Linked DNA regions of Homo sapiens: regions 1, 2 and 4 are each linked to region 3. Evidence: fine-mapped expression QTL. A gene starts in region 3. Each other region holds a variant in brackets. All regions are shown on one strand. Distances are from middle to middle.

Region 1 (5,000 bases), 81 kb after region 3:
CTTAATGAAATTCTTAGTAATGGACATTTAATTTCCTCTAACACTCATGAAGCAAACAAGCTTGTACATTCATCACTTTGTAAATGTTCAGTTATCTCTGCAGGACATAAGGGGGTGTTTAGTTAAATAAGCGTGCACATTTTCATAGCGTAATTACCAAAATCCTCTCCAAAAAGAGGCCACTGATTCCTGTCCAACAAGAACCCGGTACCCTGGCTACCACTAGGTGTTACCACCCTTCTCAGTGAATTTGCATTTTTGTGAACATGAATGAAACCAAGCACCCTTCTGTAGTTTTTTATCCACTTCTACTCACTCTGCTGTGGAGGGCTAGCCCCTCCCAGGGAAGACCCAAAGTGGGGGTCCAGCACCCACACAGCTTAGCCTGAGCACCTGGGTCCCCAAATCCTAGCTTGAGTTGCAGCTGATTGGTTGTGGGATTTGGGTGGGAACTTAGCCTACATGCCTCAGTTTCTTAACCTGTAAAATGGAATTAATAGTAAGACCCTTATCCCTGCCTGGGGCAGTCCATGAGCACTGGGCCAGGTGAAAGACACAAGAGAACGAAGGGCAAAGTCTAGCTCAGGGTGAGCCTCCAACAGGGCAGCTGTCACCAGTACCCCTAGCTGAGCTCTAGTCACGGTGCAGTGACGCTGCCTGCCCCGGGACGCTGGCACCTGCTGAGAGCCAGTCTTCCCAGACAGCACTTGCGCCTGATGCTAGTCCCTTCTGAAATCTCCAAATGCTCTCCCTGCCTACAGCGGTCACCTGAGAGCAGCTTCAGAGACCGCCACCTGCCCATGCCTACGGCTTACATGCACAGCGCCCTCTGCTCCAGCCACACAGGCCTTGGTCCCTGCAGGGTCCCTCAGCAGCACAGGGAAGCCACGCAGGCTGCATCTCACCTCGCTCACTCTCCACCCCCCTCAATTCAAGCCCTGAGAAGCTTGGTGATGCCTGGATGGGCTCTGGGAGCTGCTGCTGTGTTAATGTTCCACGAGTGGTGAGTCCCGTCCTCTGTCCAAGGGGTACTAAGTTCTCGGGGAAAAGAACCCGTCTCACACTCACTCCTGTAACACGTGACACGCACCTGAGCAAGCGCAACAGCTGTGTTAAAACATAAAAAGATGCTGCTTTTGGAAAACAAACAGAAACTGACACTTACGAGCCGGGCCACCTGGAGGTTGGCCACGGTGGTGCCCGTCAGCAGGGCACCAGGCCTTGGGGCCGTGACCGTCGTGAGCTGGGGGCTCTGCTGCTGCGGCGGCTGCGAGGTCTGCACTTGCACTTGGGCTGTTGGCTGCGGGGGCGCAGACTGGGCCTGTGGCGGTGGGGGCTGCGGGGGCATCTGCAGTTTCTGCTTCTGCATTTTGATGAGGTGTTCCTAAAATACAAGCAAAGTATCTTCTCTTCAACATTAACTGTGCTCCATTCTTTAAGTAGACATCTTGTTCCTAAGCCACCCCTCTACTGCCCATTAAATACCAAAGCAGACACCTGCTACCGTGCAGCATCCAGACCGCCTTCCATGGGCTGCCCAGTATCTTCCAGGTGTTCATTTATTAAAAATGTGCATTCGTCGGTGAAAACTACAAACACGGATTCTGACTGATAAGTTCATAGCAAAAAGAATTCTATTATCCTCACAAACAAGTCGATTTAAATCTGTAGCACCAACCAAACTTATTTGAAGTTCAAAAAACATTTTAAGAAAAAATTTTTTAAGAAAACCTATACTGAGTTGATCATGACTATCAAGTCTCTTTTGAAATGCTGGAAGTGAACTGGTTTTGAAATGGATTTGGGAGAGGGCAGAGTGAGGAACGAAGGAGACAGGCAAACAGCTGGCACACAGAGCTCCTGGCAGCCAAGGCTGGGTGGCAGCCTTGATGTTGACGGCACTGGTGTCTCAGTGGTTGAACCGGGGCAGGTGACAAGGCACCTGTGTGGCTGTAGGCCGGGGGGTCATCAGTGGTTGAACCGGGGCAGGTGACAAGGCACCTGTGTGGCTGTGGGCCGGGGGGGGG[T/GT]CATCAGTGGTTGAACCGGGGCAGGTGACAAGGTACCTGTGTGGCTGTGGGCCGGGGGGGTCAAAGCCCGGCTCTGACTCCCTGACAGTTGCCTCTGCTGGGCCTGGGACTCTTGAGCACAGCATTCTAATTCAGCACTGTCCAGTGGCACGTCCCGCAGGATACAAGTGGGCTAGGCGGGGGCTGCCCAGGGTGGTAGCCACAGCCACATATGGCCATGCAGCCCTCGAGGGATGGCTGGTGTGACAGGAACAGGATAAGCTCAATGTCTAAATTCCACCGACAGCCCTCCCGACAGCCCCAGGAGGGGCCCTCAGCTGAGTGTGCGTCTCCTGCAGCCCACTTCCTCCCTTCCAGACCACGGAGAGGCCCAGACTCAAGCACTCCGGCAGGCCCAACAGTGAGCTGAAACTTCAAAATATTGTCTTGTCTTTATTCCGTATGTGTCTCTGGTTACTTTCTATGACAAGTATTAATGATTTTTCATTTATGGTAGGACATAACATTTCCTTTTTTTTTCCTTTGAGACACAGTCTTGTTCTGTTGCCCAGGCTGGAGTGCAGTGGCACAATCTCGGCTCACTGCAACCTCTGCCTTCCAGGTTCAAGCGATTCTTGGGCCTCAGCTGGGATTACAGGCACCCGCCACCACGTCCGGCTAATTTTTGTATTTCTAGTAGAGACGGGGATTTGCCATGTTGACCAGGCTGGTCTCGAACTCCTGACCTTAAATGCTCTGCCCGCCTTGGCCTCCCAAAGTGCTGGGATTATAGGCGTGAGCCACTGTGTCCGGCCCAACATTTCCTTTGAAAATGAATATATTTACATAAAGAACAGCAAAGCTGGTACAGAGGTTAGCAAAAATCAGGTACATCAGTACTCCAATGACCACCTTTGAGAAACAGTACCGCACGTGAACCACATCGAAACAAACCCAGGGTCCATCGCCTGCTCTCCCAACACTGCTGAGGAATATCTTCTCACCAGCACTTTCTCTGGTCCAGAACCACACCAAGCGGGCCTAGAGACTGATGCTGAACACAAGGCACAAGACGCCTAAGCAAGAAGACGCATTTGCACGCTGGGTGTTAATGTCTCCAAAGTGCTCTGAATAAGCTGTAAGACTTCTCTAAGGCATGATCAAAGTGTTATGACATGGGAAATTTTAGACCAATAAAACGAAGCACGCGTCCTACATAAAGGCAGTGCTAGACGTTTGCAAAATACACTCTGGACTGCACCATGCAAGCAGGCACCGTCTCACAGACGCTGGGCTGACTGACCGCAAGACGCACACGTTCATGGTCCTCTGGGAAATGCTCACCGGCGTCAGCTTGCCCACAGCTTTGATCTGTGCTGGGGACTGGGCCTGGCCCTGGATCTGTGGAACTTGCACCTGAGAGGTCGTCGTCGTCTGTTGCTGCTGCTGCTGTTGCTGCTGCTGCTGCTGCTGCTGCTGCTGCTGCTGCTGCTGCTGTTGTTGCTGCTGCTGCTGCTGCTGCCTGAGAAGCTGGAAATGTGCAGGTGTGATGGTTTTTCCAGGGAGCTGAACTCCTGTGGCTATGAAGAGGTTTGCTCATTAGGTCTGGACAGGGATACTCGCCCACCTTCAGATCCTCATTCTCAGACAGCAAGCAGCAGCTGAGCCCTCACACGCGCCAGAGCAGACGTGTGGCAGAGAAAGCTCCCAGCCTGGCTTTACCTTGGGACACTTGGGGCACCAAAGACCGTGCCGGGGTCTGCACTGGGGTCAGGTTGGTAGTGACCACGGCCGAGGCTGTCACAGAAGTGACCGCTCGAACACCCTGAGTCGTTGCCATGGACACCAGGTCAGGGGTCGCCGTGGCTGGGGAGCCGACTGCCCGTGGCGGGGGCTGGGTGTGCACCACCTGGGCGGGAGCAGAGCCTCCCGGCGTCTAGAAAAGGCAAACAGAGGACCTCATCAAATATTTCACACAGCACTCAGGGCTGTTCACACTCAGAGCAGGGAAGACAAGAGCACCCAACTTCAGAGGCGAAACAAGTGAAACACACGCTAGAGTTCAGTCTTTTGAAAACTGCTGATTTCATGTGTAAATTCACAAGCAAGTGCCCTGAGCAATGGTTTCTCCCAGCAGATCACATCACCCACAGAAACACGCTTCAGATGGCGGCACGCCCGTGCACATGCTGGAAAGGCCGTCCTGTCCCTCCCTCTCCGCACAAAGACCTCTTGGTCCCCAGGAACGTAACGACTGTCCTTGAGGCACCCATGCTACCCACAAACACACAGCCCACAGTCCTGGCTCTCTACCACTGTCCCCATCTGTGCTGAAACTACAGCCCTGAGTGTCTCACCATGTGCGTGGGGTCTTGTGGCATCTTACCTTCATCTTGCCTAAAATTCAGAGCATCCTCACTGTGCCCTGCAGTCCACTCTGGCCCGCAGGCAGAAGTGGCAGCCAGAGTGGTCCCCTCACCCTATCCCACCTTGCCTCACCGTCCTTCCTTGTCCCACCATAAACTGGAAGGCAAACGCAATCATGCCACCTCTGCAGTGTCCCTCCAGCTGACCTCTGCCAGCTCCCTTGGTTCCGAAGTGCAGTGTATTTTTAGTTTCTCTTGATCCTTTTATGTCTCATTGCTTACGCATTTGGATGGAAATCTAGCGTGTTACTCCATGTTTTCCATTCCACCCAGCTGCTGTATGTTTCTTTTCATCTCCTTCCTTGCCTCCTCTCAGATGACTCTTTCCTCACCAATGTCCCTGCCACAGTTGGGAGCAACTCGCTCTGCTCTCATTCTTCTGGTGGCTGGTCTGGAATTACCACGGATGCTTGCCAAAGTCTAAATACTCCATGCTTTTCCTAAACAGTAACGAGATCTGTGCACATTTCAGCCCCTCTGCCCCTTCCCCAGCTTGCATGTTATTGTCCTGTGTATTTATTTCCTCTTTCTAACCCCAGTGAGCTCCTGCGTTCATCCATGAGTCTAC
Region 2 (5,000 bases), 230 kb after region 3:
GGCTGAACACAGCTCCCAGGGGGTCCGTGGGGGGTTTGGGCAGCTTGGGGCGGACGACGTGCAAGTCAGACAGGTTGGGGGCGCTGTGCAGGCGGCAGCCCAGCCCGGAAGTGCGGGGAGAGTGCTCGGGTGCAGAGGAGCCTAGAGAGAGACACGCCTCGTCACGACCTTCCGGTCCGGCGGCCCAGCCCTAGGCCCCACTGCTACCACACGGAGCCCCTTGGGGTAGACGCACTCCAAGGCCCCACTCTTTTTCTTTTGTTGAGACGGGGTCTCGCCCTGTCATTCAGGCTGGAGTGCGGTGGTATGATCTCGGCTCACTGCAACCTCTGCCTCCCAGGTTCAAGCGGTTCTCCTGCCTCAGCCTCCCGAGTAGCTGAGGCGCCACTCTTAAACCTGACCCTCAGCCAGCACAGAAGACTGGCACAGAGGGGATAAGAAACTTGCCCCAGCCCACACAGCCAGGAGGTGGAGAGGCAGTTGGCTTCTGTTCCACCAGCTTCCTTCCCACTCCTTTTCACTTGGAAAGAGCAAGGGCTTTAGACCAGGATGACAACGTGAGCGAGGGAGGTCAGCCTAGCACCCCCTCCCCCCTCCGGACTGCACCCACCTGGACGAGGGGACCTGCCACCCCGCATCTCAGCTCCCTGTGGGGAGGGCGTCCCGCTCCAGCCTGGCCGCTCAGGGATGGTTCCAACTTGGGGAAAAGAGAGATCTGTCAGGGTCCAGCTGGGACAGAGACAGCCTCCTCACCCACTGCCTACAGACGCCCCTTCCCAGGCCCCAGCCTGCAGGCGCACCTTGAGGAGATGGCGTGTAGGGCCGGCCTCCACCCAGAGACATCTTCCTGGCCAGGACGCCTCCATGCTCAGCGTGGGCAGGGGGCGAGGGGCTGGCCCTTGCAAAGCCCAGGGGGCTGGTGCTGCCTGACCTGCGGATGGCAGAGGACCTGAAGACAAGGCAGATATTAGGAGGGGAGGCCTCAGCAGCCCTGCCTGACCTGTGGACGGCAGAGGACCTGGGGACAAGGCAGGTATTAGGAGGGGAGGCCCCAGCAGCCCAGGACCCCATGCCACGCCAAGTGGCTACAGTGCTGACAGATGGCTCATCCTCTAATGCACTCTGTCCAGGTAACCGGCCACACAGTGGGTGTGTGGGAGGAGTTGGCCCCTTAGCTTTCCTGCCCGGGGTGCCAACCCAAGGCACCCTCACCCTAAAGTCTCCATCCCCTGCCAGACACCCACTGGCCCACACAGCCTTCTGTGAGTTAAAAGAAAGGTACCCTTTCCTCCCACCATTTACTTCTGTCTGTTAAAACTGGCCAAAGTCAATATTGATTTTATAAACTAGAGAGATTTTACTGATCAGAAAACTGTCAAAATAACTCTAGAAACCCAAGACATCAACAAAGTAAATGGTGGTGCTGAGTTACGCAGTGCGCAGCCTGCACAACTGCACATGGATGACGACCCTGTCCCTCTATGGGAGCCGTGGAAGGGCTCCTGCCACACAAGGCCCCAGCCACGCCTGGCTACCTGGGGGCTCCACACTCACCGAGGTGTTTGGAACTGGGTGGGTGACTGCAGGTTTCGCTCAATGCGCTGGTAGTTCTGCACCTGCGTGGGGACTGGGATGGGGACAGAGGCGCCGCACCTGCTGCTGGAGAACGGGCCAGCCCGGCTGTGGTGGAGAGAGGTCAGGATCATGACAGACACTGGGGTCACAAGAGGCTGAGGTCATGGAGCTGGGGCACCAGAAGAAAGCCTAGGCCCAGACTTCCTAGTTAGGGCAGAGGCCACCCTGAGACCCATGCCAGGTCTGAAAAGAGCCGGCTTCCATGCCTCTACACACACCAGAAATGTGGCACCTGCACCCCACCTGGACTCCCAGTCTGCACCCAGCCAGTGGGGGGCCACCCTGGCCGGGGCCCTGGCCATTCCTGGCCCTACAGGCTCGACTGTGCTGGCCCTGGCGTCCCTGGTTGGTTTCCTCATTCACCTACTCCTGTCAATGCTCCTCCCACTATAGTCCCTTCTGCAGGACGACCCAGCAGACCCCATCCTGCGAGGCCTGGGAGAAGAAGGCAGGGGCCTCTGGACACAGCAGGCCTGGGCTGGCTGCGACACACAGGAAGCCCAACCTCCAGCCGGGGGACTGTTCACAGCCCCATCCACCCAGCCTGGGGCCCTGCTTACCCTGAGGGACTGGGGGAGCTGCTGCAGGGTGGGGATGGAGATGGGGTCCGGCCGTGGCTCTCCAAGCCCGCAGAGGCCACCAGTGAGCTCCTGTGGGGCAGAAGGGAGGCCAAGGGCATTTTTTTGTTTTTTTTGGGGCAGTCTCACTCTGTCACCCAGGCTGGAGTGCAGTGGCGCAATCTCGGCTCACTGCAACCTCTGCTTCCTGGGTTCAAGCGATTCTCCTGCCTCAGCCTCCCGAGTAGCTGGGATTACAGGCATGTGCCACCACGCCTGGCTAATTTTTTGCATTTCTTTTTTTTGTCAGTAGAGACGGGGTTTCACCATGTTGGCCAGGATGGTCTCAATCTCCTGACCTTGTGATCCATCCGCCTCGGCCTCCCAAAGTGCTGGGATTACAGGCGTGAGCCACCA[C/T]GGGCCAACGGCATTTACTTTTTTTTTTTTTGAGACAGAGTCTCGCTCTGTCACCCAGGCTGGAGTGCAGTGGCGCGATCTCGGCTCATTGTAAATAACACGGGCCACTTCCAAGGCCACAGTTTCTCTCCCCTAAAATACAGAGGTAAGGGATGGGGGCTCACCCACTGCACATCAGGCTGTCTGGCGGGGGTTTGGCACTGGGCGCCTCAGCCACCAGGTCACCTGCAGGGGGAGACAAGGCTGGGCCTGGAGTCCTTGCCGCCTGCCCAGGGCCACCCCACCCCACCGAGGCTCTCTGCTGGATCCCCACGCACACTCCACCTTGCAGGGGCCTCAGCTCGTACAGCGGCCTTGCGGGGGGCAGAGCCTGGGTGGTACAGTCCAGGCTGCATCCTCCCTGCCAGCCCCAGGCCAGCTCCGGGAGACCAGAGCGCTACCTGCCCCCGCTTATCCCCACTTGGACTCTGCGCCTCCTGTCTCCTCAGCCCCAGAGACCCCTGGGGCCCTGCCCCCCAGCCTTTAGCTAACTCCAGGATGGGCGGGGGAGGTCAGGCATCTACAGCCCTAAGTCTGGGCCCAACCCCCTCCAGGAATACCCAGGTTCCCACCCCCAAGGAGGCTCTGCCCTACCCCTGGTGTCCGTCTTCCTGTTGCCCTGACAGCTGGCAAAGGACCAAGGCCCTCCCCGGGTCTGTCTGGGGCTTGGCTCGGGCCTCACCACCCCCGCAGAAGCCATGCTGATGGGAGAGGCGGAGGGCTCGGCATGAGTCATTGTGTCCCTGGCAGACACGGGGACCAGTGCCAACCCAGACCTCCAGGAGCTTTGGGACAGCCAGGGACAGAGTGCAGGGCCTTCAGAGGAGCCACAGACCCCAGGCCTGCTCCAAAAGTTTAGGCACCTTCATTCAACAAACACGTGGGCAGCCCCTGGCCATTATGGAGCGGGGGGTTCCCCAAAAGCCAAGGAATAAACCCACCTGCAGGGTGTAGAGGCAACAAGAGTTGCTGAGAAACAAGGTAGGGGTACATGGCGGGGGAGGGGCATGAGGTGAGCGGCCCCCACCCATCCGAAGAGCAGCACTGTCTAAGGAGACCAGGCCTATGGCCTCCGACCTCCTACTGACCACTAGGAGGACCCGGCTTTGATTCCAGGAGTGGTTTTAACAGACACGGCCTCCCCAACCAAGCTGGGCCGATGCCGGTGGCTCCCAGGGGCCCATCCTAACTGCCCATAAGTGGAAATGTGTTACACACTGTGCATCCAACACATGCAATGCACTGTCCCCGCCGCACCTGAGGCGTCACCTCCAAGCCCAGCGTGCCCCCTGACCTGGAAACTGCGCGGGGACCATGACGAAGTCGTCTGTGTCACAGGAAGAGTCCTTGCTGCCACCAGAGTCCCGGGAGCTGTGCAGGAAGCCAGCGGTGTCAGCCGGGGAGGCCAGGGTCTTCTGCAGCTGCTGCATCTCGCCCAGGGACTGAGAGTCAACGGAGGGGCTGGTGAGCAGGTCTCAGGGACCTACACACTCAGGGGAGCAAATTCCCCCTCCTGGGATGGCCCAGAGCCCCAGTAAAGATCGGGGCGCTGGGGCTGAGAAGGGCTGGGCACGTCTTTCTTCCTGTGCTCCGCTCTTCTCTGTACTTCCAGAGCACTCCACTCAAAGGCCAGCTTTGACCTCGCAGGGACAGGCCCCCCGACGAGCCACTCTCACCATGCAGCCTGGGTGGGTTGAAGCCCTCAGCTCCCAGAAGCTCTGGGAGGCCCTGTTTTGGGGAGTTGTTCACCACCTGCCCTCTGCACCTCACTTTTCCATCGGCATAGCCAAGAGAACGAGGTACCATGGAAGGCGTGTCCAGTGGAGAGGCTGCCACCCCGGTGGGCCCTGCTCTGAGGCCAGCACCATGCTAAGGCCCAGGGCACACCATCCGTGCGGTGGTGGCTAAAGCCCCAAGTGCCCCAGGGCAGGTCTGCGGATGCCACAGCTCCCTACAGCAGGGCGCTGCCACGCTCCCCTCGCCACATCTGAGCTTTCGGCCATGATACAGGCAGACAACCAAGGTCAGAGGACCGGTCCCTGGTCACAGAGCAGGGGGCCAGGCCAGGAGAGCCCAGACATGAACTCATCACCACCAGCCACAACACCATGCCTGAGAGCCAGGCTCCCAGTCAGATGGACAGAGGGACGGGGGTTCATGGCCGACTCAGGTGCTCTGCAGACCCCTCCCATGTCACACAAGGAGTGCCATCATCATGTGGGGCCATCACCCTGCAACCCTACTCATGCTTTGAGTCCAATGGAAGACACGAGGGAGGCCAGGGGTGCAGGTGTCAGTGGGCCAAGGCCACACGCTGCTTCTGTCCACGTCAGCACAAAACCAAAGACAGGA
Region 3 (7,102 bases):
GGCCAAGAGGGGGGCTGCGCCCAAAACAGCCCACGGGGCCCACAGGTGGCACCAGAGGCTTGACTCCAAGAGGCGGCGGTGGCCTCTGACCCAAGGGAGGGTCCCGAGTTCACAGGTCTCGTCACCTCCCACACTTCGAGTGACCTGGTGGCCGTGCAAGCTGCCACCTGTACCCTGGGAGTTTCCTCTGGTGAGGAAGGCGGCAGCCTCCATGGGGTCTCACATGCACCCCACACACACCCCCAAACCCGGGAGGGTGCCCGGCTCTCCAGAAGCAACTCACCTTCAGGTGAGCAACCTTCCAGGTGTCCCACAGCTCTGCAGGGAAAGCGAGGGCAAAGGTCACCTGACCCGCAGGGGAGGCAGACCAAGGCTCAGCCCTGTCCGCCCCTGACTCTCAGCACACTCACCCGCCCGCTTCACATAGAAGCTGGAGACGGTGGGCTCCCGGCGGGGCAGGCTCACGGCAGACAGCAGCGTGAAGGCATTGTTCCAAAAGGCGGGGGGCACCTGCGGAGCCTGGCCTGAGTGCCTGGACGCCGCCCCCCAGTCCCTGCCTCCCTGGGAGGCAACAGCATGATGCTGGCGACAGGACCCCATCACCCACCTCGGGGTGCTGGCCAGTGACCCGGGCCACGGCATCCACGGCTGCCTGCATGGTGTGGTAGCGGGTGTCGTCGTAGTCCAGGTACTCCCGGAACTGGGACAGGAGCAGGCTCTGGTCCTCCTCAGGAGACAGCAGGCCTCCCACCACCAACTAGGGGCAAGGACCAGTGAGCAGCCCTGCCCGGCCCAGCATACGCCAGCAAGGTCCAGGCAGGCAGCCCTGCCCCATCGAGCCCCCCAGGCAGACTCCTCCTGGTTGGGTGGGCCACAGGAGCCACAGGAGTGTCCCAGCCAACAGCCAGGCTCAGCTCAGCAGGCCCCGCCCCCACTACGGGGCCATCCTGGGATCTGGCCAGCCAGCCAGGCCCTCTGGGAGTCCCCAGCAAGGCCCTCACCTTGAAGAGCTCTCGGGGGAACAGGTAGTTGCCTTCCCACTTGGACTTCTCCAGGGGGTGCGCTCCTTCCAGCTGCACGAACTTCAGGAGTGCGCTGAGGGCCAGCTCCTGGGAAGGGGGCAGTGCAGGGTGGCTGTGATGCCCTCACCCCACGGATGGGCCCAGAGCTCAGCCCAGTCAGGGAGCCCCTCCCATCTAGGCCCAGAGCTGAGAAAAGGGCGGCCGGGCCTTCTCTTGCTCCACACGCCACCAGATGCCACTCTGGGCTTCCGTGTCCCACCCATGACGTAGAGATGACAAGATCTCTAGTTAAAGAGATCCAGTGCTCACGACAGAGTCTGGCGGGGGAAGGGTACACAGCCCAGGTCTGCTTTATGGGCCACCTGACTGCTCTCTCGTCACCTGTGTCACGGGAATGCCACCATAACCCTTGGGAACAGCTGTGAAAACACAGGCGTGTGATGCCAGCATGGTGCCCAACTCAGACCCAGGCTTGGAAGCTCTCATCTCGGGGTGGCAAACTCAGTGCTTTCAGGGCCCAGGCAAATGACACCACAAAGCAAAAGAGCCTCGTGCGGGATGACAGGAGCACACGGCTGTCTCAGAGCTGTCTCTGACTCTCCCTCCAGCCAATCGCAGCCATGAACAAACTTAGACCCCGTGTTGACAGAACTGATTATTTCTTTCTGAGAAGGTGGAAACTGGTTATTTTCACGTGGTATCTCCCCAACATTTAAAAGTCTGCAGCTCGGCTATAATTATAGACAGACGTGTTGGCGAGGATGTGGAGTATGGAACTCTCAAATGCTGCCAGGGGGAGGGTAAGATAGCGCAGCTACTATGGAAAACAGTCTTGTAGTTCCTCAGAACATTAAAAACACAGCTGCTGTGTGGCCTTGTAATTCCACTGATAAGGCATATTCAAGCAAAAGAAACATCACACAAGAGTTTGTACGCGAACGTTCACAGTCCGCTGTTCGTAACAGCCAAAGGTGGAAACGACGCAAATGCCCAGCAACCTACGAGCGGCTGAACGATACGTGCTGTGCTATACGACGCGCTGCTACTCAGCCACAAAGAGAACGAACTTCGAACACGCCGATGAGTGGAAGAAGCCACATACCGTATGATCCCCCTTATGAGGAGCGTCTAAAAAAAGCAAACCCATTGATCCAGGAAGTAACCACTGATCCAGGAGTGGCTGCCTGGGGCTGGGGGTGGAAAGGGGCGGGATATGGAAGCGATGGTAACTGGTACAGGATTTCTTTTCGGGGCGATAAAGATGTTCTGGGATAGCGGCAACCACTGCACAACACAGTAACAGATGCTAACTTCTCAGCTTTAAACGGTAAACTGTGCCTCAGTTATTCCTCACTACAGATTTTAAGAAAGCTCATAATGCATTCCCATGGCTGCAGACCACAGTGTGATCTGAGCAAACACATCTGTGGACTGGCACGAGGCTTGGTGTGCGTGCTCTATGCAAACACAGAGATCCCCGTGGATGCCACTGGAAATGAACACGGATTCTGCGTCTTCAATATTCACTACAGGACTCGATAGCCATGTTTCTGAATGGGACTGAACACCCACAGGGTGATGCTCCCATGAAGGAAGCAGCTTTGCCTGGACAATTGTGGGAGCCCCAGACCTCTGCTTTGTGGATAACCTGGGAGTTGGGGTGCAGGGGATGGACAAGGATGAGGCCAGCCCAATGACCCACCTTGACCTGAAAGGAGGGGTGGCCCAGGAGCTCTCCCAAGCGATTGCAGCAGCTGTGATAGCGGTGTCTCATCCACACCTTGTACTTCCGTGTGGCTCCCTGGGACCCTGCAGACAGGTTAGGGTGGTCAGCCCACGTGAGGCCCACATACGCCACCCTGGGCCCAGCCCAAAATCTCAGGCCTGGCTCCACCCTCCCATTGTCTTCTACTCAGCCTCCGCAGGTGGAAACAGGTCGCTAAGGCCCCCAGACCTGTGCTGAGACCAGCACATTCCCTGAGCCCTGCAAACAGGAAGAGCACCTCCTACCCCAGGACTGCCCCAGCCAAGCTGCCAGGAGCAGGATCCACATCCCCTCTCTTTACTCCAAGACCTGACGTCCCCAGGATGGGGACATAAAGGAAGCTCCGAGTTTAAGCGACCGTGTCAGGATCAGTCAACATCAAATTACAAAAGGGGTGCAAAGCACACAAAAAGTCGTACCTTGTCCAGTGTTCATCTACACTCAGCTGCAGGGCACCCATGTCACCCCTGCCCCAACGCCACCATCCATCTTCCACGGTGGGCTTGGTGCGTCCTCCCACCAGCCTGCACGGCCTGTGCCAGGGTTGGGGGCGCTCATCCCATGGTGACAAAGCCTCCCTCCGACCCACGGAAAGAGAAGAGCAGCCCCGGGGCCCTCCAGGGCTCACCTGTCATGACCATCTCCTCAGAGGGCAGCTGGCCCACAAACAGCTCTCCCCGCTCCAGCAAGGCCCCGAAAAGACGGCTGCACGTGCGGACTGCTTCCTGGATCTCCTCCTGGTCCTCAGACTGCAGGAGAGGCGGCGGCAGGGTGCCCGGCCGCCAACTGTCACCTTCGCCCCTGCCTAGGCTGCCCCCAACCCGTTCCCTTCCCCCTCGGGACGCCAGCCCCGTCACCCCCGACCCGTGACCCACACGCCTCCCACCCTGACCCCCCAACGCCGTCTCGGAACCTCCTGGGGACCTGCCGCCGCAGCCCCCCATTCAAGTCCCGCTCCCGTGCCGCGACTCCGGCCCTGCGACGCCGCCAGGCCCACCTGCAGCACGGCCAGGATGTCGAACACGGCGTTGGCCTCACTGCGGCTCGCCAGCACCGCCTCCAGCCGGCGGCCCAGAGCCCGGCGAACTCCCGCGGCGCCCGGCTCCCGCTCCATGCCGCCCCCAACACGGAACAACGCGGATTCTCAGCCGCCGGCGCTCCCGTGACGTCACCACTGCGCGTAGAACCCGACGTCATCTCTACGCGCCGTACCCCAACCCCATCTTTTGCGCGGAGCCCGAGTCGCAGGCGTGCCGCCGACGTCATCGCAGCGCGCCACGCCCGAGTCCCAGGCGTGCGGCTGGCCATGGCGCTGTTCTACGTCGCGCGGTACCCGGGCCCCGATGCGGCAGCTGCGGCGGGGCCGGAGGGCGCGGAGGCCGGGGCGCACGGCAGGGCCCGCGCGCTGCTCGAGCGGCTGCAGAGCCGGGCCCGCGAACGGCAGCAGCAGCGGGAGCCCGCGCAGACCGAGGCGGCTGCATCGACCGAGCCGGCGACCAGGAGGCGACGGCGGCCCCGGCGGCGGCGGCGGGTGAACGACGCGGAGCCGGGGAGCCCGGAGGCGCCGCAGGGAAAGCGACGGAAGGCGGACGGCGAGGACGCGGGCGCAGGTGGGCCGCGGGGCGAGCGGGCTCCCTCTGGGGCGCCGGCGACTCGGTGCTGACGCGCTGCCGGGTGGGTGTCTGCCTCGCAGAAAGCAACGAGGAGGCGCCAGGGGAGCCCAGCGCAGGGAGCAGCGAGGAGGCGCCAGGGGAGCCCAGCGCAGGGAGCAGCGAGGAGGCGCCGGGGGAGCGCAGCACCAGCGCCAGCGCCGAGGCGGCCCCAGATGGACCGGCCCTGGAGGAGGCGGCCGGACCCCTGGTCCCCGGCCTGGTGCTGGGGGGGTTCGGGAAGAGGAAGGCGCCGAAGGTGAGCCTCGGCGGGCGGGAGGGTGGTCGGCGTGAGAGGGTAGGCTGCGCGGATTCTTAAGTGCGGCGGTCGCCCCGGAAGATTTCGTTCAGCGAATGTTCCCGGGTCACAGCCGCGCCTCGCTGCCAGGTCTGCAGTTTCATCGCCTAGGGGTCTGGATCCTGCACGTGCAGAGCTCCCGTTTCCTCTGCTAGGCTTGCCCCTGTCCTCCCGCCGCGCCGCGCCAGTTCTGCAAGATGTGTTTGCGTGAACGTGCGGGGTTTCCTGCTGTGCGCTCACCGCCTCAGGAGTAAGTCAGAGGCCGTTCTGCAAGCTCCTGACCGTTGGTGTTTTTGCTTAGCACGTGTGGTTTTCGGTAAAGAGATTTCCGGCGAGACAGGTGAAGAAAGCGAGAAGTTTGACAGAGTGCTCGGGCACCTTAGGTAGGGCAGGTGGAGGAGGTTCTCTTTGAGTTGGGATGCAAAGACTTGAAGCCAGGTCAAGGTTGGGGGTTGGGGGTGCCAGGCAGAGGCCTCGAGGCAGGGACGCCGGCGTGGCTGGGGCAGGCGAGCGCCAGGTCACAGGACCTCCTGGCTGCGGGAGGGTGGGTGCCACTGTGGGTTGATGGGAGGCTACAGAGTGAGTTTGCTCAGGGAGTGGCATCTGCTTTTACTGTTTAACTTCTGAAGGCTGTATGGAAAGCGCATCCTGGGGCTGAGAAGGAGCTGAAGACGACAGAGGTTTCCCCAGCCTCCCTCCCCTAGCTTTTTCCACCGTGGGCTTCTGCGCGAGAGCCTGGAAAGCGCTCACCTGGCCTCTCTTTCTTTTTGATGGCAGGTCCAGCCTTTCCTGCCAAGGTGGCTGGCTGAGCCTAACTGTGTCAGAAGGAATGTCACCGAAGACCTGGTTCCTATCGAGGACATCCCTGACGTCCATCCTGACCTGCAGAAGCAGCTGCGGGCACACGGCATCTCGTCCTACTTTCCAGGTGCCCCAGCCCCGGGCAGGCAGCTGAGGGAACACCTCCCTGGGCACCCACACACAAGGCTGTGAGTGGCCGTGGGTCAGGCGTCCCTGCCACATCGGTGCCAAGTGTGGTCTCAGCACTCTCAAGCTCATGGTTCCCACTTGGGTCTCCTGAGGCTGGCGTTCCTCTGGGCCTTGGTGCCATCCCTCTGGGGAGCGGTTCCCAGGCCTCCAGCAGAGCAGCCCAGCCCAGAGGTCACAGGCAGGGAAGCGGCAGGCCTAGGCCTAGGCGTAAACACGACTTCTCTCTCGCCTTTCCTCATCCAGTCCAGGCAGCTGTGATTCCTGCCCTCCTGGAGAGCGCAGCCTGTGGGTTTCTGGTGGGCAGAGGTGGCTACCGGCCTAGCGACCTCTGTGTTTCTGCCCCAACAGGCAGTGGGAAGACACTGGCCTTCGTCATCCCTGTGGTGCAGGTCTGTGTGAGGGTCCCCTTTCTCTACAGCGGGTGTGCAGAGGACAGGTAACAGCCTTGCTGACGCAGGCGCTCCTTCCCCCTCAGGCCCTGCTTTCGAGAGTGGTCTGCCACATCCGTGCCCTGGTTGTGCTGCCCACCAAGGAGCTGGCCCAGCAGGTATGTGGACCCTAGACCTGGAGCGTGGCACCGCCCGCCTCAGCTTCCCTGCTGAGTGCACAGCGATCAGCCCCTGGGGGACCCAGATTAGATCTGGGGTCCTTTTTGCTGCAGTAGGTGGACACCAGCTACCTCCAGGCCAGTGACAGACTTCTCCTGCAGGTGAGCAAAGTTTTCAACATCTACACAGATGCCACACCTCTGAGAGTCTCCCTGGTTACGGGACAGAAGTCTCTGGCCAAGGAGCAGGAGAGCCTCGTCCAGAAAACGTAGGTTGTGTCAGGGTGCGGGTTTTTCAGGGGGTCCCTGCTCAGCCCTGCAGGTGGCCTGAGGCACCGTGGGAGCAGAGGAGGGGCCACCATCTTTAACCACCTGTTCCCGTGAAGAGGAGGAGCTCCCACCGGCCCCCTTCCCATGTGGGGTGGAGTCGGGGCTGTGGGGTGAGGCAGCGTCTTGCTATCCGGAAGCCCTTGAGAAAGCTTCCTTCTCTCGAGCTGCTCTCTGGTCTGTAGAGCTGATGGGTACCGCTGCTTGGCTGACATCGTGGTAGCCACCCCCGGCCGCCTGGTGGACCACATCGACCAGACCCCAGGATTCAGCCTCCAGCAGCTCCGCTTCCTGGTAGGTCCCCGCCCCAGGGGCCTGGGCTTTGAGCTCAGGGCCGCGCCACCCAGTCCCGGGCTCCCTGTCTCCTGCAGATTATCGACGAGGCTGACCGGATGATTGACAGCATGCATCAGTCCTGGCTGCCGCGGGTGGTGGCGGCCGCCTTCCAGAGCGAGGACCCCGCGGACCCCTGTGCCCTGCTCCAGCGAAGGCAGGCCCAGGCTG
Region 4 (7,970 bases), 61 kb after region 3:
CCTGTAGAAATGAAAGAAAGTGTCAGGACCCATGCATAGGAATGTGTCTCTCAGTACAAACTGTGGCAAAAAAACAGACACAAAATGAAATCCATCAATGGGGAATGGTTGACTAAATATGTTGTATCCTCAGTACGGACTATTATGTAAACATAAAAAGAATAAATTTTTGCCTGTAATCCCAGCACTTTGGGAGGCTGAGGCAGGCAGATCACAAGGTCAGGAGATCGAGACCATCCTGGCTAACACAGTGAAACCCCGTCTCTACTAAAAATACAAAAAATTAGCCAGGCATGGTGGTGGGTGCCTGTAGTCCCAGCTACTCGGGAGGCTGAGGCAGGAGAATGGCGTGAACCCGGGAGGCGGAGCTTGCAGTGAGCTGAGATCGCGCCACTGCACTCCAGCCTGGGCGACAGAGCGAGACTCCGTCTCGAAACAAAAAAAAAAAAAAAAAAGAGAATAAATTTTTATTTCCTGACATGAGCAGATGTTGAAGACATATTACTAACTGAAATGGAAAAAAAGATGGAGGGTGTTATTACAGCACAAAAGGACTGAAAAGGACTTATTTTTCTGTATTGTTTGAATTCTTATGAGGGTACATTTTGTAACATCAAAAAGCAAATTAAAAATATGGCTCATTCCAAGGTACAAAAAATTACTCTGGCAAATCAAAGTTTTTCAAAGTATCTTCAGACTCAAAGAAGTCAAAAAATAAGCTGGACACAGATAGACACTATTTGTTCCTGTAGCAGCTGGAAACCACAGTGAAAGGGCGTTGGCTTTTCCTCCTTAGAAGGGCCTCAGCACCTGACTTTGGAGAGAGCCCATTCTTTGCCATTTTTCCTCTACATGGTGGTTGTCAATGGACTCTTAGGGGACCAAGAATCACTTTACAACATTCTGTTCTCCTATTCAAAATGGGTCATGCTCCATACTTCTCAGAGTCATCACCCAAAATCATACATTTCAATGCTTTTTCAAACATGTGAATACCACCCAGAAAATTCGTAAGCATGCCATTATCCTCCAGGCCCTTTATTACATGATCACCATCATTAAAGTCCTAACACTTAACCATTTTGTAGTAGTTATGACAACTGTTACCTTAACAGTGAACAGATCAGATGACAACGTATCCATGGCCAGGTGGGACGATGTGGACCCAGGAGGACCTAAAATCATGGCCAAGAGACCTCTGCACCACATGCTGACTCTGTAAGGCCATCTCTCCTTGAGTGCTAGGTATTGTTGAAGGAGGGAGTTTCTACTTGTCTCTACTGTGACTGAACATGAAGTACAGACTTTTATAAGTAATATATATATTTTTTGAGACGGAGTTTCGATCTTGTTGCCCAGGCTGGAGTGCAGTGGTGTGATCTCAGCTTACCACAACCTCCGCCTCCTGGGTTCAAGCGATTCTCCTGCTTCAACCTCCCAAGTAGCTGGGATTACAGGCAAGCACCACCACACCTGGCTGATTTTTTTTGTATTTTTAGTAGAGACGGGTTTCTCCATGTTGGTCAGGCTGGTCTCGAACTCCCGACCTCAGGTGATCTGCCCGCCTCAGCCTCCCAAAGTGCTGGGATTACAGGCATAAGCCACCACACCCAGCATAAATAATAATTTTTAAAAGTGCATTAGTTTAGCAAAAACGTGACAGGGATGTCAGTGAAACACCTTTGTGTTACAACTGTCATTTTGTACACCTTGGACAATTCCATTCAACGAACAATTTAGTTAGTTTTGAAGTCTCAATAACATAGTCAGAAAAGAAACTGCTGTAATCTCCCCTTATCCATGGATTCAGTAACCCTCGGTGAACTGCAGTTCAAAAACATGTGCGTACAATACAGTAAGATATTTTAGGAGAGAGACATCACTTTCACATGACTTTTATTACAGTATATTGTTACGACTGTTCTATTTTATTATTAGCTGTTATTAATCTCTTCCTGTGCCTAGTTTATGAATTAAACTTTATCGTAGATATGGAAGGATGCATAACAAAACAGTGTATATAGTGTTCACTACTATCCTTGATTTCAGGCATCCATTGAGGGTGTTGGACCGTATCCCCTGAAGATAAGGTGGGGCGACTGCACGTGGATTGAGAGGTGCCCTCACTGCTGCAGAGCTGTGGTAACAACACTCACTTGTGGTTCCCAGACAAGACTCTATCTGGTCGTGAGCCCCCAACAGCCAGTGGTACTGCTGTCCAATCTGACAGATGGAAACCAGCGCCAATCAGCCTGCCTGGAGCGGCACAAATAAGCCTAAGACTCAAACTTTCAGCCAGTTAACTGTAAGTAAACCAACTTTTTGGTAAGGAGGAAATACTCACCCAGCTCTTGGGCAAGATAAGTGTCTTTATTATAAAAGGCGTCAATTCGCAGCGTCTTTACTGTAAAGGTGGTGGTATTATTAGATTCTTCCTTTCCACTAACACAAAACTCCCAGTGCCGGAAGGCCCTTGTCAGGAGCAGGACCCGCGGAGGGGTCCGTGGTCAGTTCTGGGACAGCTGCCGAGCAGCGCAGCGCGTGGAATCAACTTCACTGCTCACGTGCAGCGCACACTAAGCGCACTCGTCTTTCCTGGAGTGCAGACCAGGCCCCGACCTCAGGGATCAGGACAGCGGGGCCAAGGGGTCAAGAGGCAGAGGCGGCGTCAGCGCCGTAGACAGCGGTCTCGCGAGGCTGGAACCAGGCGGGCGGCAGTGACGGGGGTGGGCACCAGGGGACTGGGTGAAGGGTCATGAGGGGAGGGGCGGTTACCGGGCCAGACGGTCACAGGGATCGTGTCACCGGGGAAGGGCTGGGAGGTCGGGGGTTTGTGTCACGGGATGGGGGGGAGCGGTCACCAGAAAACGGGGTGATGCGGGAGAGGGGGCGGAGGAGGGAAGGCGGGAAAACGGCAGTTGCCAGGTGGCGGGGGGAGGGGTCGCAGGGGGAGGGGTGGGCGCTCACGGGCGCAGGGTCACCGAGGGATGGGTGGGCGTTTGCGGGGGGTCATGTCACGGGGGAGTGTTCACTGAGGGAGGTGGGCGTTCACGGGGGATCGTGTCACGGGGAGGGGGTCCCTGAGGGAGGGGTGGGCGTTCGCTCAGCCGGGGTCACCGGGTGATGGGACGGAGAGAGGGGAGCGCGCGGCCGGGGAGCCTCGAGGGTAACCGGCGGATGTGGGCGGTCGGGGGCCGAGGGTAGGGCCAACCCCTCACGCCCGCCACAGCCCCGGCAGCGGATACGCGGGCCGTCACTCACCGCGGCTGCCGGGCGACGCAGCCAAGGGCTCCCGGCGCGGATGAGCGCTGCGACAGCGGACCGGGCGGCGAGGCCACTACAACCGACCAAACCGACCGGCCGACGCGGAGCCAGTGCGCAAGCGCGGGAGCCGGCCCGGCACTGCGCAGGCGAGGCTCGGACCAATCAGCGCCCAGCGGACCCGGAGGGACGTGGCGGAGGGGGCGGGGCGGAGGGGGCGGGGCGGATAGGGCCGGGCCTCGGTCCGCGCCGGCGCGCGCCTCTGGCTCCGCCCGGAACTAGTTTGTTCATTCATTCGCACGTGGGCACTGAGTTGTATTTGCCCGCCCTCCCGCCGGACACCTGCTGAGCGCTGGTCACACTGACAAGCACAGCTAGCGGCTCCCCTCGCGGGCCCTACAGTCTAGGCGGGGAGGATAGATAAACATGCAGTTAGAAGAGCACCAGGCAAAGCAGCCGGGATGGGGCAGGCTGAGGTCTGTTTTAAATTGGGCAGGGGAGTCGGGGTGCCTAGGGAGATGAGATGTTACGTGGGATCCGAAGATCCACAAGACTCTTGCCTGTGACCACTGAAATGGTGGGACATGTCCCTGGTTTCGTCGTGTCCACTGTAGACGGGTGAGCTTTGGAGCTGTGCATCAGGCGCCTTCCACTGCATAACCTGCCCATCTATTTAAGAGTGAAACCCGTATCACTTACCACCTGTCCATTTCTTCATGGTACTTATCCCCTGAATTATTTTATCTGACCTGCTAGGATGCAACCCCCTTTTTTATTTTGCTGGCAAGTATAGCCTAGTTGTCTAAACTGCCACATAGTATGTACTTTATAAACAGCTGAATAAACCAGTAATTCATCCATCTCTCTGATCAGCTTTTTTTTTTTTTTTTTTTTTTTTTTTGAGACGGAGTCTCGCTCTGTCGCCCAGGCTGGAGTGCAGTGGCGCGATCTCGGCTCACTGCAAGCTCCGCCTCCCGGGTTCACGCCATTCTCCTGCCTCGGCCTCCCCAGTAGCTGGGACTACAGG[C/T]GCCCGTCACCACGCCCGGCTAATTTTTTGTATTTTTAGTAGAGACGGGGTTTCACGGTGTTAGCCAGGATGGTCTCGATCTCCAGATCTCGTGATCCGCTCGCTTCGGCCTTCCAAAGTGCTGGGATTACAAGTGTGAGCCACCGTGCCCGGCCAGCTTTGATTTTCTTAAACAGCCAAGTGTTGTCCTTCCGCCACTCCAGCACTAGTGGTAAAGTTGGCATGAAATATGCTACATTAAATATTCATTGAATAGGGATAAAACAGAGCCACACTACAGCTGGAGAAATAAGACAAATACTGTTGTTCAGCCCAAGATACTACTGGAGGAGAACACTGGGGAGAAATGAATAAATGAATGAATGAATGGATGCACACTTAGTTAAGTGGGAGTAGTCTTCAAAGTAGGAGAAATACTTTACAACAAAGGAGACGAGCACAAAGTCAGGGAGACAGGAAAGGCTGCACAGGGGGCAGAACGATGCTGCTCTGGGGGCTGGTCGGAGTGTAGGTGGCTACACAAGATCAGGCAGGAGGTCGGAAATAAAGGTTCCCGAGTAGGGGACCATGTGACAAAAAAGCTGATAGGGCCTTATTTTAAAAATTAATTCATGGCCGGGTGCGGTGGCTCACACCTGTAATCCCAGCAATCTGGGAGGCCGAGGCGGGCGGATCACTTGAGCCCAGGAGTTCGAGAACAGCCTGGCCAACATGGTGAAAGCCCATCTCTACTAAAAATACAAAAATTAGCCAGGCATGGTGGTGCGCGCCTGTAATCCCAGCTACTTGGGAGGCTGAGGCAGGAGAATCGCTTGAACCTAGGAGGCAGAGGTTGCAGTGAGCTGAGATCACGCCACTGCACTCCAGCCTGGGCGACAGAGTGAGTGAGACTGTCCCCACCCCCACCCCGCCCCCACCACACAAAAATTCATGCACTTGGCAAACTACCTGAACAGTTAAAAGGACGCGCATAACAGTGCAGATCAGCAGCCTTGATCCTTGCCCCCCAGTCTCTCCCTCCACAGAGGCAGTGCTAACACAACGTACAATCGTCCCTCAGCACCTCCCATGGATGCCAAACTCCGAGAGGCTCAAGCCCCTGATGCAAAATGCATATAACTCAAAAACATCTTTTTAAAATCATCTCTGGGTTACTTACAATAGTGAATGCAATGTAAATGTCATGTAAATAGTTGTTATGCAGCATTGTTTAGGAAATAATAACCCCCCCAAAACAAGGTCTGTATATGTTCAGTATAGACACATTTTTGTTTCTGAATATTTTTGCTCCTTGGTCGGTTGAACTCATGGACGTAGAATCCACCACATGCAGGGGCAAATACTTCCAGGATATTCTATGCACATCCAGGCATACAACCAGTTCCATCCTGGTAGCATACTTCACAAACTCATCCCCCAGCACAGCTGTACTTTGTAGAGGCTGCACTGCATTCCACCGAATGTATATAGCATAATCTACCCAATAAAATGGGAACTTTAGAAAAATTAGGGGAATAGATGCTGCAGCAACAGCATAGCAGGGCACCCTATGGCAAAGGAATCTCCCCTCCCATTGCCCTGGATCACAATGCCCAACTCTGGGGTGTTGGTGGGCAGCTGTCACACGATCTGACATCTCGAGTAGGAGGTGACACAACACACTCCGGGCTCAGAAGCTACCTTAAGGTCTTGACGGCTGTGCGCAGGCACAATTGCTTCACCCACTGGCCCCTGGTCGCTACTGGACAGCAAACAGAAACACAGCTTCCAGGCCAGATAAGCCCGCCATAGGGCCTGCTGCCACAGGCACACTTGGCAAAGACGTGATGGTAGGGTCAGGATGACAGAAACAGTAGGCTTTGCAAAACCTGCAGTCCTCTTCGTTGGGAGTATAAAAGACAGACACCAAGTGCAGCACCCAACATTGGACTGGATCCTCAAGCCACCTTAGGAGAGGGGACATGGGGACACAGAGGCCCTGAAGGAGGAAGTCACCTGCCCCTGGTTATGTGGCTGGTAGGCATGGAGCCGCAGGTGCACCAGGCACTGCAGTACAGACCCCCAGAGGCCAGGGAGCACCAGCCGGGCTTTGCAGCTGGCTTTCTCGCCCACCCTGGTATCTGCACTATCACCTGCAGACACGAAGTGTGCAACCAGACCCTGGGAGCTTTCAATCTGGAAGACCGGAGGTGGAAGCCCAAAGCTGCAGGGCCAAGTGCCCGTGCACCCCCGTTTTTGTGGTGGGAGAAAAGATACAGAAACTAAGGGGCTTCTGGGATGCTTCTTTACTTTGCGTAATGTGTGCGTTTTCAATTAAAAGTGTACGTTGATTTTTGTAATCAGATTTAAAACGAAACGAAGAAAAGTCTAAAAGCAGAAGAAAAAGAGAAGCAACAACTCGCAGGCCATCTGCTCACAGGCGTTTTCGGTGGTGAGCACCTGTGAGCCGGTGTCCCTGCCCTTACTTGGGCACACAGACTGGGTGTGGAAGGACACTGGTGCCAGTTGGGCACACAGACTGGGTGTGGAAGGACACTGGTGCCAGTTGGGCACACAGACTGGGTGTGGAAGGACACTGGTGCCAGTTGGGCACACAGACTGGGTGTGGAAGGACACTGGTGCCAGTGTGGCCCCCAGGACATTGACGACGGGTGCTGTGAGGGTGGCAGGCCACATGGGGCAGGGCGGTGCCAGCTCTTTCCTCCACGTGCGGCTTTGGGAAGCGGCTGCCTGGTGGACTTGGTGAATGTGATTTCTGTTCCTTCCAGGTCCTTCTATGGCCACGGAAGAGTGGGTGAGGGGAACACCTCTGGCTCCAACATTACTTGTTGGTTTTTTCTTCACACAAATGAAAAATTCAGCATCTCATTTAACTTAAATACCAGTTTTCTATGAAAGACAAAATGAAAAAATATATAAAAAGGTCACTTTATTTTGCCTTTTGTTTGGTATGCTATCAATGCCCTTTAAAATCCTACTATTCAAGTACAAATGCTGATGTTTACAAAGTATTTACAATTTTAGTCTTGTTCCTTTCTATCTTAAAACACAACAGCTAACTGGTTACAACAGTTAACAAAATAATAATAATAAAGGTCACAAAAAGAGAAACCCCTGTCTTATCAGGCACCAAATCTGAACAAGGGCTTGGATCCAACCTTCTGCTTCCCGCCAGGTGCTTTAAAAACAGTCTGGCTAACTGTTTTTATCATCAGAATAAACGTCTTTCTTTAAAGAATAGCAGGGCAACTGTTTCCCAGGGTCGCCAATTAGAGTCTGACAGTGTTCGGGCTGCTGCCTTTATAGTCTGTGTTCTCAAAGTTTCCAACTCTTACTTGCCGTATTGGAATGAACCCAGATTCACAAGGGGAAGGCCTAGACAACAGCTTCCTGAACGCGTACTTAATTCTTAGGTTAGAAACTTTAACCTTTAAAAGGGAAGGCCAAGAAAATAACACACTAAAAGGAGAGTTTTTACGTACACGACTAAATGAATTTAACTCAGGTCAACGGTAGCATCTAGAAGTTACTAAATTGAGTGCTACGAGTAAAAATATGTCCGTGTTTTGTATTAGGGAACAGCCAAAGGAAACACACTTGAGAGACAGGAGACCCTCACTGACGTGAGATCGGGGCGGAAACTCCACATTGCAAATATTCAGAATCCCATTAAGCTCTCCAA

The links.
Region 1: its variant is fine-mapped to the expression of NOC4L in CD4 T cells (BLUEPRINT, PIP 0.91).
Region 2: its variant is fine-mapped to the expression of NOC4L in visceral fat (GTEx, PIP 0.96).
Region 4: its variant is fine-mapped to the expression of NOC4L in whole blood (TOPMed, PIP above 0.99). The same link has a PIP of 0.9 or more in aorta, blood mononuclear cells, cerebellum, cerebral cortex, esophagus mucosa and esophagus muscle.

Annotation. Positions count from the first base shown.
Region 1 is chr12:132,061,052-132,066,051 of GRCh38, reverse strand. It overlaps EP400 (E1A binding protein p400), which reads right to left. Exons shown (of 53, transcript NM_015409.5): 46 at 3,729-3,942; 47 at 3,351-3,586; 48 at 1,166-1,384. Among named protein-coding and RNA genes, the nearest start is that of SNORA49, 32 kb to the right of the region's middle. The variant T/GT (reference allele first, on the strand shown) is at 2,028.
Region 2 is chr12:131,911,032-131,916,031 of GRCh38, reverse strand. It overlaps ULK1 (unc-51 like autophagy activating kinase 1), which reads right to left. Exons shown (of 28, transcript NM_003565.4): 13 at 3,943-4,090; 14 at 2,774-2,834; 15 at 2,196-2,285; 16 at 1,555-1,680; 17 at 801-949; 18 at 611-697; 19 at 1-141. Among named protein-coding and RNA genes, the nearest start is that of PUS1-AS1, 15 kb to the left of the region's middle. RefSeq lists a cis regulatory region at 157 and an enhancer at 73-242. The variant C/T (reference allele first, on the strand shown) is at 2,610.
Region 3 is chr12:132,141,288-132,148,389 of GRCh38, reverse strand. NOC4L (nucleolar complex associated 4 homolog) reads right to left here and starts at 3,933. Exons shown (of 15, transcript NM_024078.3): 1 at 3,785-3,933; 2 at 3,416-3,536; 3 at 2,725-2,831; 4 at 1,002-1,109; 5 at 608-757; 6 at 411-510; 7 at 284-318. The coding sequence starts at 3,901. DDX51 (DEAD-box helicase 51) reads left to right here and starts at 4,071. Exons shown (of 15, transcript NM_175066.4): 1 at 4,071-4,397; 2 at 4,481-4,695; 3 at 5,512-5,662; 4 at 5,968-6,113; 5 at 6,200-6,271; 6 at 6,434-6,540; 7 at 6,784-6,892; 8 at 6,970-7,102. The coding sequence starts at 4,094. RefSeq lists enhancers at 3,851-4,150, 5,080-5,985 and silencers at 4,161-4,210, 4,281-4,480.
Region 4 is chr12:132,079,691-132,087,660 of GRCh38, reverse strand. It overlaps EP400 (E1A binding protein p400), which reads right to left. Exons shown (of 53, transcript NM_015409.5): 53 at 7,201-7,970. It also overlaps the pseudogene EP400P1. Among named protein-coding and RNA genes, the nearest start is that of SNORA49, 52 kb to the right of the region's middle. RefSeq lists silencers at 1,047-1,223, 3,068-3,517, 3,538-3,617 and enhancers at 2,408-2,457, 1,999-2,859, 4,276-4,777. The variant C/T (reference allele first, on the strand shown) is at 4,289.